Regions from separate parts of the Homo sapiens genome. Here region 1 is linked to region 2. Evidence: fine-mapped expression QTL. A gene starts in region 2. The other region holds a variant in brackets. All regions are shown on one strand. Distances are between the middles of the regions. Region 1 overlaps CEACAM3 (CEA cell adhesion molecule 3). Region 2 holds the start of DMRTC2 (DMRT like family C2).

Region 1 (5,365 bases), 34 kb before region 2:
AGCAAATCCCAAACTCTACCCTGAGCCCTCTCACTCCACCTCTGCAGGACCCCTCCTCCCCTTGTTGTTCTGATTTCTCACAGCTGACCTTGGGGCCAGCCTGGAATGTTGTACAAATTTTGTTTTATCACTTACGAGTTCTGTGACCTTCCTTGACTTACTGAGGTGCTTTAAGTCTCAGATTCTAACTCTGCAGCTGGGGGTGATGCCCCCTCTCCCTCAAGGTGATGTAAGGATGAGATGAGTTGTAGGTAGGTTGGTGCCCACTGGAACTGGCACATGGAAGGCCCCTGAAAACAGTCAATGAACATCATCCCTGCTTATCAGCATTGAGTTGATGCCAAGGGCCTGCCCTTTGTGAGTGTCATGGGATGGAAAAGGAGAAACAGAGGGAAGAGGCATGATGCGAGAGGAAGGAGGGACTAAAAGGCACAGGAGCAGGGTGAGGTGCAGGCACCTCTGGGACAATGTATGAGTTGGTGCCGCCCAGTGTGTCAAGCCTGCAGAAAATGGTGCCACCATGGAAAGCAAGGGAATCTGTGATGAGGACAACACAAGAGACTACACTCAGGCCCCATGGCATCTCCTTCTTCCCTGACTGCACACCTTCCCTGCAAGGCCCCTGTGGTTTCCTCTGGGATAGACTTGGGCCTCTATCCCCTTTGCCTTCTTCTTTCTGCAGAAGAAAATGCCCCAGGCCTTCCTGTGGGGGCCGTCGCCGGCATCGTGACCGGGGTCCTGGTCGGAGTGGCGCTGGTGGCCGCGCTGGTGTGTTTCCTGCTCCTTGCCAAAACTGGAAGGTACCACAGCTTTTTCCCATCCTTCTCCCACCCCCTAGGCTGACTCCAGGCCAAAAGAAAGGAGACCTTGTCCTGTATTCAGGGCCAGGCTCTCCACGGCCTCCCAAGTCCCCAGGGATCCTTCCCTCTTATTCCACGGCTCCTCCCTCGTCAGCTCCTGACCCTGGGTTGCTGCCTCAACAGCTTCCTCCTCTGTGAATTTGGCCCAATTAAGGCCCCACCCCTGAGTGTGGCCCTAGTTCCCTCACACAGCAAAGCCACAGCTGCCTGGAGGGAGGGAGAGAAGGAGGGAGGGAAGTAGGGAGGGAGGGAGGGAGGGCGTGCTCTGTACTTGGTACCTCCCATTGTTCATTGAATCCATCCACACAGTGAGGGGGATTTGCAGGCTCCGGATCCTGGGCACCGTCACACAATGGGGAGTGGACCAGCCTGGACAGGCTGGGTGGGGTCAGTGCCCCCCATGGCTGATGTGGTAACCATAGGCCCTGAGGTGTGAGATGGGAGAACCTGGGCCTCAGAACAGCATGTCCTGGAGCGTCCTTTGTGTCTCTTGCCAAGGGGTTGAGAGAGAGGACAAGGACACTGTCCCATTTCAGCATCACCAGCCCTGAGTGCAGGGTCTGGCCACAGCAGGGACACTGAGTTCCAGGAGAATCCAAGACACTTGCGGTCCCCTCCGTGTCCTGCACACGTGGCCCTGCTTTGCCTCTGGGGACTTGACCCTTCCTCTCAGGCAAACCCTCGTGGTCTGTTTCCTTCCTTGGGTCCTCAGTCCCTTTCCTGGGTCCCTGGGTCAATGTTCTCCTGGCCCGGCATCTGCCTGAGGGTCCTTCCCCTCTGCTCAGGACAGATGTGGGTTCCTAAAGCCTTTCCTCAACTCCCCTCTGCTGGGCTCCCCCTAACACAAACCTGAGGGAGACAGGAGGTCTCCATGCCCATCCTTGAAAATGGGTTTCCCTTCTTGTCCCCTGTTCGAACTCCAAAGTTGTGGCTTTTAACCTGGCACCCTCCCAAATGACCCTGACCTTTCCTAGAACCAGCATCCAGCGTGACCTCAAGGAGCAGCAGCCCCAAGCCCTTGCCCCTGGTGAGTGTCCTCTCAGCCCAGGTGTGGCTGGGAACCCCTAGGACAGCCCCACAGTGTCCGCTCCTGCCAGTCACTGCCAGGCAGACTCTGATCCTTTCCCGGGGGCTGCAAGGAGGATCTCATAAAACATCACACAGGGGACCCCAATTGCTTGGGTCAGCCCTCACCTGTGGGCTCTGGGTCATGGGTCACCTCCCCAACCTCAGCTGCTCAGGTATCTTAGAGCTGAGGACCCCCTACGCCTTCCTGGAGAGGGGATAAGGCTCTCCTCCCACCCTGCTGCTCACTCCTGTCTCTGTTTCCAGGCCGTGGTCCCTCCCACAGCTCTGCCTTCTCGGTAAGCCTGTCCCCTTCCAGCCCCTTTCTACTGGGGTCCCAGCTGTGCAGGCTCTGGGCAGAGGGACCATCAGCCCCCCAGCACAGAACAGACCCACCTTCCCCCAAAACACACAGGACAAGGCTAGCCCTGCCCTGGCCAGGAGCTGGGCCTCCCTACAGGGTCAGGACCACCCACGCCCTGTGCTGACCCCTCCCCGGGACCCTCCATCACCTGAGGAGACCCCTGGAGTGCAGCAGGTGCAGAGTGGACACTGGGACCATCAGTCAGGGGCCCACATTAACAAGGGTGCAGGGTGGGCCCAGCCAGGAAAAGGGTCAGGGTGCTGTGTCCACACTGGGAGGCTGAGCTCAGGGGCAGAGCTGGTCACTCCTGAGGGGAAATGACCAGAAGTAAACACAGAGAAGTAAATCCTGGCCAATCAGAGACAGGAAACTTCCAGGCTGGGCCTCCATGACCCTCCCTCCCTGTCCACAGATGTCCCCTCTCTCCACTGCCCAGGCCCCCCTACCCAACCCCAGGACAGCAGCTTCCATCTATGAGGTGAGTGTGGGCCACGGATGTTCTGGTCCCACAGGCCCCAGGGGACCCAGGATCTTCCCCTACTGGCATCGGCTGAGCTCTGAGATTCAGGAAACTGCTGTGAAAATAAGAACGGGGGTGGCGAGCAGAGGAGGGAGGGGCTTGGGAGCAGGAACCCCCTGAGCACAGCCAGGTTCAGCCCCAGAGCAGCCCTGGATGGGCCCAGAGCCTGGGAGACGCCACACCCTGTTCTGAGGAGACTAGAGGGGTCCAGGCCTCTTCTCTGTTTTAACAGGAATTGCTAAAACATGACACAAACATTTACTGCCGGATGGACCACAAAGCAGAAGTGGCTTCTTAGCTTCCTCCAGGAGCTGCTCCTGTGTGTTGATGGAGAGTCCCCAAGGCCCCCAGCCCTGGGGATGGGGAAGGACATGAAGCCTGAGCCAGAGAACCAGCTATAAGTCCTGAGAAGACACTGGTGTCTGGGG[G/A]CAGGGAGGGATGGGGGTCCCTGATGAATATCTGGAGACCTCGACAGCCTGCCCTAGGCCCTGGGTGGGTCAGGACAAAGGCCTCTCATCACCGCAGAAAGCGGGGGCTTGCAGGGAAAGTGAATGGGCCTGTGGCCCACCTGGGGTCACTTGGAAAGGATCTGAATAAAGGGGACCCTTCCTCTCATTAGCTGTTTTTCTGCTAGTGGGAACTTAGCAAAAATTCGCCTGAAACTCCATATCCATTCTCTCCTGGGTCACACAAGGAAAATGTCATCTCCAACTTATTTCAACCCCAGTCTCTCTTCCCTGGGAGGCAGAAATAGGGGGTTGGGAGTCAGGCTGGGGTGGACCCTACACAGGAAAGGGCAGGATTCACAGGAGACCTGCCCAGCCAGCTGAGCGCTTGGCTGTGCTCATACTGCCCCAGGGACCCACGGTGCCTAGCCCTGGCCACTGGGTTTCTTCTCTGTCCAAAAGGCCAGTGCTCAGGACATCTTTACCCATATCAGGGGACACACAGAGGGCCTGTCAGAGTAATCAAGGTGAGGACAGACCCAGAATTTAGTCCTGGAGTAAAATCCTCCCAGACACTACCTGGGACTCTAGCCCATCATTTCCCATCAGTTCCCACTTTACCCCCTGGAGTGGATCTCACTGAACAATCCTCCACTCCACACAGGAGATTCCAGGTCAGAGACACAGGGCTCTCTCACCTAAAGCTCACGCAGTCTACCATGGCAATGGGACAACCTCTCTCCTCTTCTCCCTGGCCTGCAGGGCCCTCCACTCAGGCCTCACCAGCAGCTCCACCACATACCTGGGCCGGCAGTTCTCTGTCCCTCCTGAGGGCCCTGGGGAGTGTAATGATCTCATGTAGGTTCACTCAGACCAGGTGTCCCCTTCCCACAATCAGGCTGGTCCCTGCACTAAAGCACAGAGCCACGGTTCCTGAGGGTATTCTGCCACTGCCCAGGGTTGTTTGCCATGAGATGGGAAGTAGGAAAAACAACCTGCAAATTTACATCAGGATTTAGCTCTAAATGACTCCTTACCTCACTTGTACACATCGTCAGATGAGACAAGGTGATGTCTCTTGTGTCAGTTTCCTGTTGATGCTGTGACAAATTCCCACAGGCCAGGCATGTTGGTTTGTGTCTTGGTCCCACTTACTCAAGAGGCTGAGGCAGGAGGATCGCTTGAGCCCAGGAGGTTGAGGCTGCAGTGAGCTCTGATCACACCACTGCACGCTGGCCTAGGCAACAGAGATGACAACTCCATTGTTAACTTAGTGGCATAAAACAACAACGTGTCCACTTGGCTGTGTTCTTCCTGGCAGCTCCAGGGAAAAGTCTGTTCCCTCACCTTTTCCAATTACTAGAGGCCGCCTGCATCCTTAACTTTGGCCCCTTCCTCCATCTTCAAAGCGAGCAGTACAGCATCTTGAAACCTCTCTGTGCTCTGCTTCCATCCTCACTGACTTCCCCGCCTCCCTGTCTCACTTGTATGGTTATTTTGGACCCACCTGGATAAACCACAATAATCTCCCCATCTCATCATCCTTCATTTATCTGCTAAGTGTCTTTGACCATGTGCCATATTCACAGATCTTGGGATGAGGATGTGTGCATCTTTGAGAGGGGCTTGTTCTATCCATCTCTCCTCTCAAGGCCATTTTATCATGATTGTTCACTACAAAGTACACATGGGCACCTGGATAGGGTTATCCTGACTGTGGCATCAGTTTTTGCAGTGACGTCCCAGCACCCTCCAGGTCCTGAGAGAGGGAGACGGAGGGCTCTCCATGCCCCTAGTACCTCTCCACCTTCTCCTCGGTGACAAGCTTAGTTGTTAAGAATAAAAGAGATGTGTCTGGGCGTGGTGGCTCACACCTGTAATCCCAGCACTTTGGGAGGCCGAGGCAGGCAGATCACCTGAGGTCAGGAGTTCGAGACCAGCCTGACCAACATGGCGAAACCCTGGCTCTACTAAAATTACAAAAATTAGCTGCACGTGCTGGCGCACGCCCATAATCCCAGCTACTCTGGAGGCTGAGGCAGGAGAATCACTTGAACCTGGGAGGTGGAGGTTGCTGTGAGCCAAAATAATGCCACTGCACTCCAGCCTG
Region 2 (5,365 bases):
ACATCTATCAGACTGGTAAGGATCAGAAAGCTGGGAAAAGACAAGTGTTGGCAGGTATGTGGGGATAAAGGAACCCTTGGCCCCTGATGCTCATGGCATTATTTGGAGGGCTGGGGAATAAAACACTATTTCTGGACTCTGAGAAACAAAGGAGTTGAGAGTTCTGACCAGGATCTCAGGCCCAAAGCAGCATTGCAGGGGTCTGACACTACATGGTCAAATTGGGTTTATAAATACCCATTTCCAGTATACCCTACATAGGTATTACAAAAATGTCCACCTTCATCTACAAAGGAACATGCACAATAATGCAGCATTTTTTTTTTCTGAGACTGGGTCTCGCTCTGTTGCCCAGGCTGGAGGACAGCTGTGCTCACTGCAGCCCCCACCTGCCAGGCTCATGCAATCCTCTCACCTCGGCCACCCAAATAGCTGGGACTACAGGTGTGCGCCAACACACCCAGCTTTGTAGAGATGGAGTTTTTCCATGTTGCCCCAGCTGTTATCAAACTCCTGGGCTCAAGCAATCCACCCACCTCGGCCTCCCAAAGTGCTGGGATTACAGGCATGAGCTCCCATGCCCAGAGAATGCAGCATTATTGTGGTGATGGTAGGTTGAGACAATGGGAGCTTCCCTCTCTGAGACCAAGTGAATGCAAAACATGCTGGGGATGTACGCTATGGAATATCACGCAGGAGTTGGAAGAAGTTGATTAGATGTACACAGGATGTGAGGCAGGGTACAGTGGCTCACGCCTGTAATCCCAGCACTTCGGGAGGCTGAGGTGGGCGGATCACCTGAGGTCAGGAGTTCAAGACCAAGCTGGTCAACATGGCAAAATCCTGACTCTACTAAAAATACAAAAATTAGTCGAGTGTGGTGGTGGGAGCCTGTAATCCCAGCTACTCAAGAGGCTGTGGCAGCAGAAGAATTGCTTGAACCCAGGAGGTGGAGGGTGCAGTAAGCCAAGATCACACCATTGCACTCCAGCCTGGGCAATAAGAGTGAAACTCCGTCTAAACAAAAAAAAAAAAAAAAAAAAAAAAAAAAAAAAGTACACATCATGACAGAATGACAGAATGTGTACATGGATAGATTGTAAAATCACAGTGCTGATTATTACAAATAGTATATAACATAATATCACTTGCATAAATTAAAAACTCAAACAGAGGTCGGGTGTGGTCGTTCATGCCTGTGATCCCAGCACTTTGGGAGGCCAAGGCAGACAGATCACTTCAGGCCAGGAGTTCTGGACCAGCCTGGTTAATATGGCAAAACCCCATCGCTAAAAAAAAAAAAAAAAAAAAAAAAAAAAAAAAAAAAAAAAAAAAACCCCAACAACAACACTACACACATCCTGGGAGAACACACACACAAACCAAAAGATACATATTAACCACCTTAGAATGAGAATTGCCTATAAGAAGGTTAGGGAATGAAAGTGGGGAATTGGTGGAAAATAACAGTGTAGGAGGGGGTACAAAGATCACTGACCTTGGCCTCAGAGACCCAGGTTGGAATCTTTACCCCTTCATTTACTAGCTGTCCAATTTGTTGAACTCAGAGCCTACTACCTTCTTTATAAAATGAAGTATAATACATCTCATAGGGTCATTGTGAAGATCAATAAAATTATTACCATAAGTATTAGGCAAATGCTAAGCTCTTTATAATCGTTGGTTACCCTGTTCCTCTACCACTATCCCTCCCTCCCACACACACTTCCTCTCACTCTCTCTCCACTACCTAAAGGATCAAGTTCAACCTCTTTAGCTGGCCTTTAAGCCTCCCCCGACCACACCCCACCCCACCCCAGATAAGCGCCACCCAACCTTTCCAATTTTATCTAGGACAGCTCCCCTGCCCAGCAGTCCAGCTAGAGGTCACGTCGGCCACCCTTTTCTGCCTGCAATGCCTCAGACACACATGCTCTGTAACCCAGAAATCTGTGGCCAAGAAAGGTGCCAAGACCCGCAGAAAAGCTGGGACACAGGAAAGAGAAACGAAGGCTGACAACAGATCTCACGGGGGTGAGGGAGATTAGGCCAATCAGAGAAGACAGCACACGCCAGCCTCAGATGCAGAACAACTGGACCTGGACCTAACAAGCTGAGTACAAGTGGAGACGCAACCAGAAAAGATTGAAGTGAAATCCTCAAGCAAAAAAAAAAAAAAAAAAAAAAAAAAAAAGGATGGAGCAGTAGTCAGAGGGGATGCCACCCCTACAAAAGACAAACAAATTGATGGAATGGAACCTTGCAGGGAGAGAGAGGACCAGCAGAGAGAGGGAGGCGTAGGAAAATGAGGAGTGGGGCACAAAGGTGGGGCTCTCAGGGAGAAGAGGAGTCGATTTTAGAGGGGGAGAAGAAAAGGACACAGAGCTGGCTGTACAGAGAAAAGGGGCCAAGGCAGAGAAGATGGCGGGATGGTGTGAGACGGAGTTCACAGAAATACCCAGAGAAGGCGACGATTACACAGAGGAGCCCCCAGAGGGGCGAACTCTTGAGGAAGATGAACGCGGAGGGTGGAGCCAGCCAGAAATTCAGAAAAACTAGAGGCGTCCCCGGTAGCGAAGGAAGCCGGGAAGGGGCCAGGCTATCAGGGCATGAAGCACGGGAGAAAATGGGTCCGAAGAGGGAGAGCGTCCGAGAGAAAAGGAAAATCAGAGATTAGGAAAATCACAACCGACACAAAGACAAGAAGAGACACAAGGAAAGGGGTGCAATCTGAGGAAGGAGGGCCCGGTAAGCAACCCGGTAATCACAGCGCTGGGAGAGAACGCATAAAAGAAGGGTAGCTCAGGAGTTGTGGGGCACCGGAAGAGACATAACAGAAAACGCAGGCCTCCACTCAGCAAAAACAAGCCACGCGCGAAGTCGAGGTACAAGGCAAGGGAAGGCCAGAAACGAGGCAACCCGTGCACAGACCGGGCTTGGTCAACGCCCCAGGGGCGGGGCCAGGCGGGCCGTTCCTGGGGGGCGGGGCCAGCCTCGGTCCAATAAGGGGTACTCGACGCCCCATTGGCCACCTGCCTCGAAAGGGGGAAGACAGTCTGGGCGGGCAGGACGTGCGGAGGGAGAGGCAGCGGTGGCGCGAGGCTCAACTCGAAGCGCTATTGGTGGGACTGATAGTCTTGTGCGCCAAGAAGCTGGCAGAAGGGAAGGGGCGGGACATCAGTTCAGGATCTCAAACCGCATTGGTCGTCTGCCTCGGCTGAGAGAGGCGATGCTTGAAGTTCATTGGTCTTTGTGAGACAGGGTAAGAAAAGCAGCGCGAGCTTGGCGGTTCCTCTGGCCACTTTCTCACAGTGTCTTTGGGCGTCTTCTTGACTGAATCTGACTCCATTGGAGGCTGTGGTAACCGTGAACTAGCTGCACGAACACGGTCCCTCCTGCCTTTCCGTCCTCCTCCCTCTTAGCCGGACTCCCTAACCCAGGCATCCCCTCTCCTCCCCCTCGCGCCCCTCCCGCCCTCGCGCCCCCTCTCCCCTTCCCTGCCTCGCGGGCCCCTTGGCGCGTTCCCGGTTCCCCACTCGCTCCCTGGGGCACGGGAAGGGGGGAGGGGGACATGCATGAAATTAATTGTTGGTAGTGGCCACAGGAGCAGGAAGCGCTGGACACAGTGACTTCACATGTTTACACAAAAACCTGAATAAGGTGTGAGCGCAAGAGAGACATTAGTGCCCCAAGGAGAAGGTTTTTGGCCCAGATCAGGGCCTAGCACATGACAGGGGCTCAGTAACCATTTGTGGAATGAATGAAGGAGTGAAGGAAAATAACTTGAAAGTGGGGCAGGTGGCGGGTGCGGTGGCTCATGCCTGTAATCCCAACACTTTGGGAGGCCGAAGCAGGCAGGTCGCTTGAGGCAGGTCAGGAGTTCAAGACCAGCCTGGCCAACATGGTGAAACCCCATCTCTACTAAAAATACAAAAATTAGACGGGCGTGGTGGCACAGGCCTGTAATCCCAGGTACTCGGGAGGCTGAGGCAGGAGAATTGCTTGAACCCAGGAGGCGGAGGTTGCAGTGAGCCGGGATTGCACTACTGCACTACAGCCTGGGCTACAGAGTGAGACTCCATCTCAAAACAAAAAAAAAGAAAGAAAGAAAGTGGGACAGGGGAGCCAAGCATAGTGGCTCCAGCCTGTAGTCCCAGCTACTGGGGAGGCTGCGGCAGGAGGATTGCTTGAGCTCAGGAGGTGGAGGCTGCAGTGAGCCATGATCACGCCACTGCGCTCCAGCCTGGGCAACAGAGCGAGACCCTGTCAATAAAAAAAAAAAGAAAGTGGAGCAGGGAATCCATGAGAATAAGGTAATTATTGGGGGTGCAAGAGAGGGTTCTGATTTAAAGGGGTACAAGAACAAAATAAGACTAAAGGAATGCAAGGAGGCAGTTGCTTTGCAGGGCATAGATGAGACTAAGAATTGAAATTGAACTAAGAATTGAAAGGGGCATAAAACTACTGGTAGGCATTGGATGAATGCATGAGAGTGGGGTGAGCATTGTTGAAGAGGATGCCAGGAAACACTGTTGGGACGGAACAGGGTGCTTGTGAAAAGGGGATGTAGGACTCGCTGAAGGGGTATGTGAGGACATGAGTAGGTTGGAACCTAGGATGTGTGTGTGGGTGGGAAAGTGTTTGGATTGAAAGAAAAGAATGTTTGAATTGAAAGAATACAGAATGTCGGGCGCAGCAGCTCATGCCTCTGATCCTAGCACTGTGGGAGGCCAAGGCAGGAGGATCGCTTGAGCCCAGGAGTTCGAGACCAGACCAGCCTGGGAAACATAATGAGACCTTGTCTCTATAAAAATAAAAAACAATTAAAAAAAAATTTTTTTTTTGAGACAGAGTCTTGCTCCGTCACCCAGGCTAAAGTGCAGTGGCGCGATCATGGCTCACTGCCAGCTCTGCCTCCCGGGTTCACGCCATTCTCCTGCCTCAGCCTCTGGAGTAGCTGGGACTACAGGCACCCGCCACCACGCCCAGCTAATTTTTTGTATTTTTAGTAGAGACAGGGTTTCACTGTGTTAGCCAGGATGGTCTCGATCTCCTGACCTTGTGATCCACCCGCCTTGGCCTCCCAAAGTGCTGGGATTATAGGCTTGAGCCACCGCACCCGGCCTAAAAATTTTTAAATTAAAAAAAGGGGGGACGGGTGCAGTGGCTCATGGCTGTAATTCCAGCACTTTGGGAGGCCGAGACAGGCAGATCACTTGAGGCCAGGAGTTCGAGACCAGCCTGGCCAACATGGTGAAACACCATCTCTACTAAACATACAAAAATAAAAAAAAATAGCCGGGCATGGTGGCTCTTGCCTGTAATCCCAGCTACTCAGGAGGCTGAGGCAGGAGAATCGCTTGAA

What was found. PIP is the estimated chance that this variant, and not a neighbour inherited with it, causes the effect. A credible set is the group of variants that fine-mapping cannot tell apart.
Region 1: its variant is the best candidate, but not a certain one, in a credible set for the expression of DMRTC2 in whole blood (TOPMed, PIP 0.54).

Annotation. Positions count from the first base shown.
Region 1 is chr19:41,808,131-41,813,495 of GRCh38, forward strand. CEACAM3 (CEA cell adhesion molecule 3) reads left to right here. Exons shown (of 7, transcript NM_001815.5): 3 at 683-800; 4 at 1,835-1,887; 5 at 2,193-2,224; 6 at 2,702-2,767; 7 at 3,042-3,424. The coding sequence ends at 3,107. Among named protein-coding and RNA genes, the nearest start is that of CEACAM3, 14 kb to the left of the region's middle. The variant G/A (reference allele first, on the strand shown) is at 3,238.
Region 2 is chr19:41,841,742-41,847,106 of GRCh38, forward strand. DMRTC2 (DMRT like family C2) reads left to right here and starts at 3,301. Exons shown (of 9, transcript NM_001040283.3): 1 at 3,301-3,360. It overlaps LYPD4 (LY6/PLAUR domain containing 4), which reads right to left and starts at 2,942. Exons shown (of 5, transcript NM_173506.7): 1 at 1,837-2,942.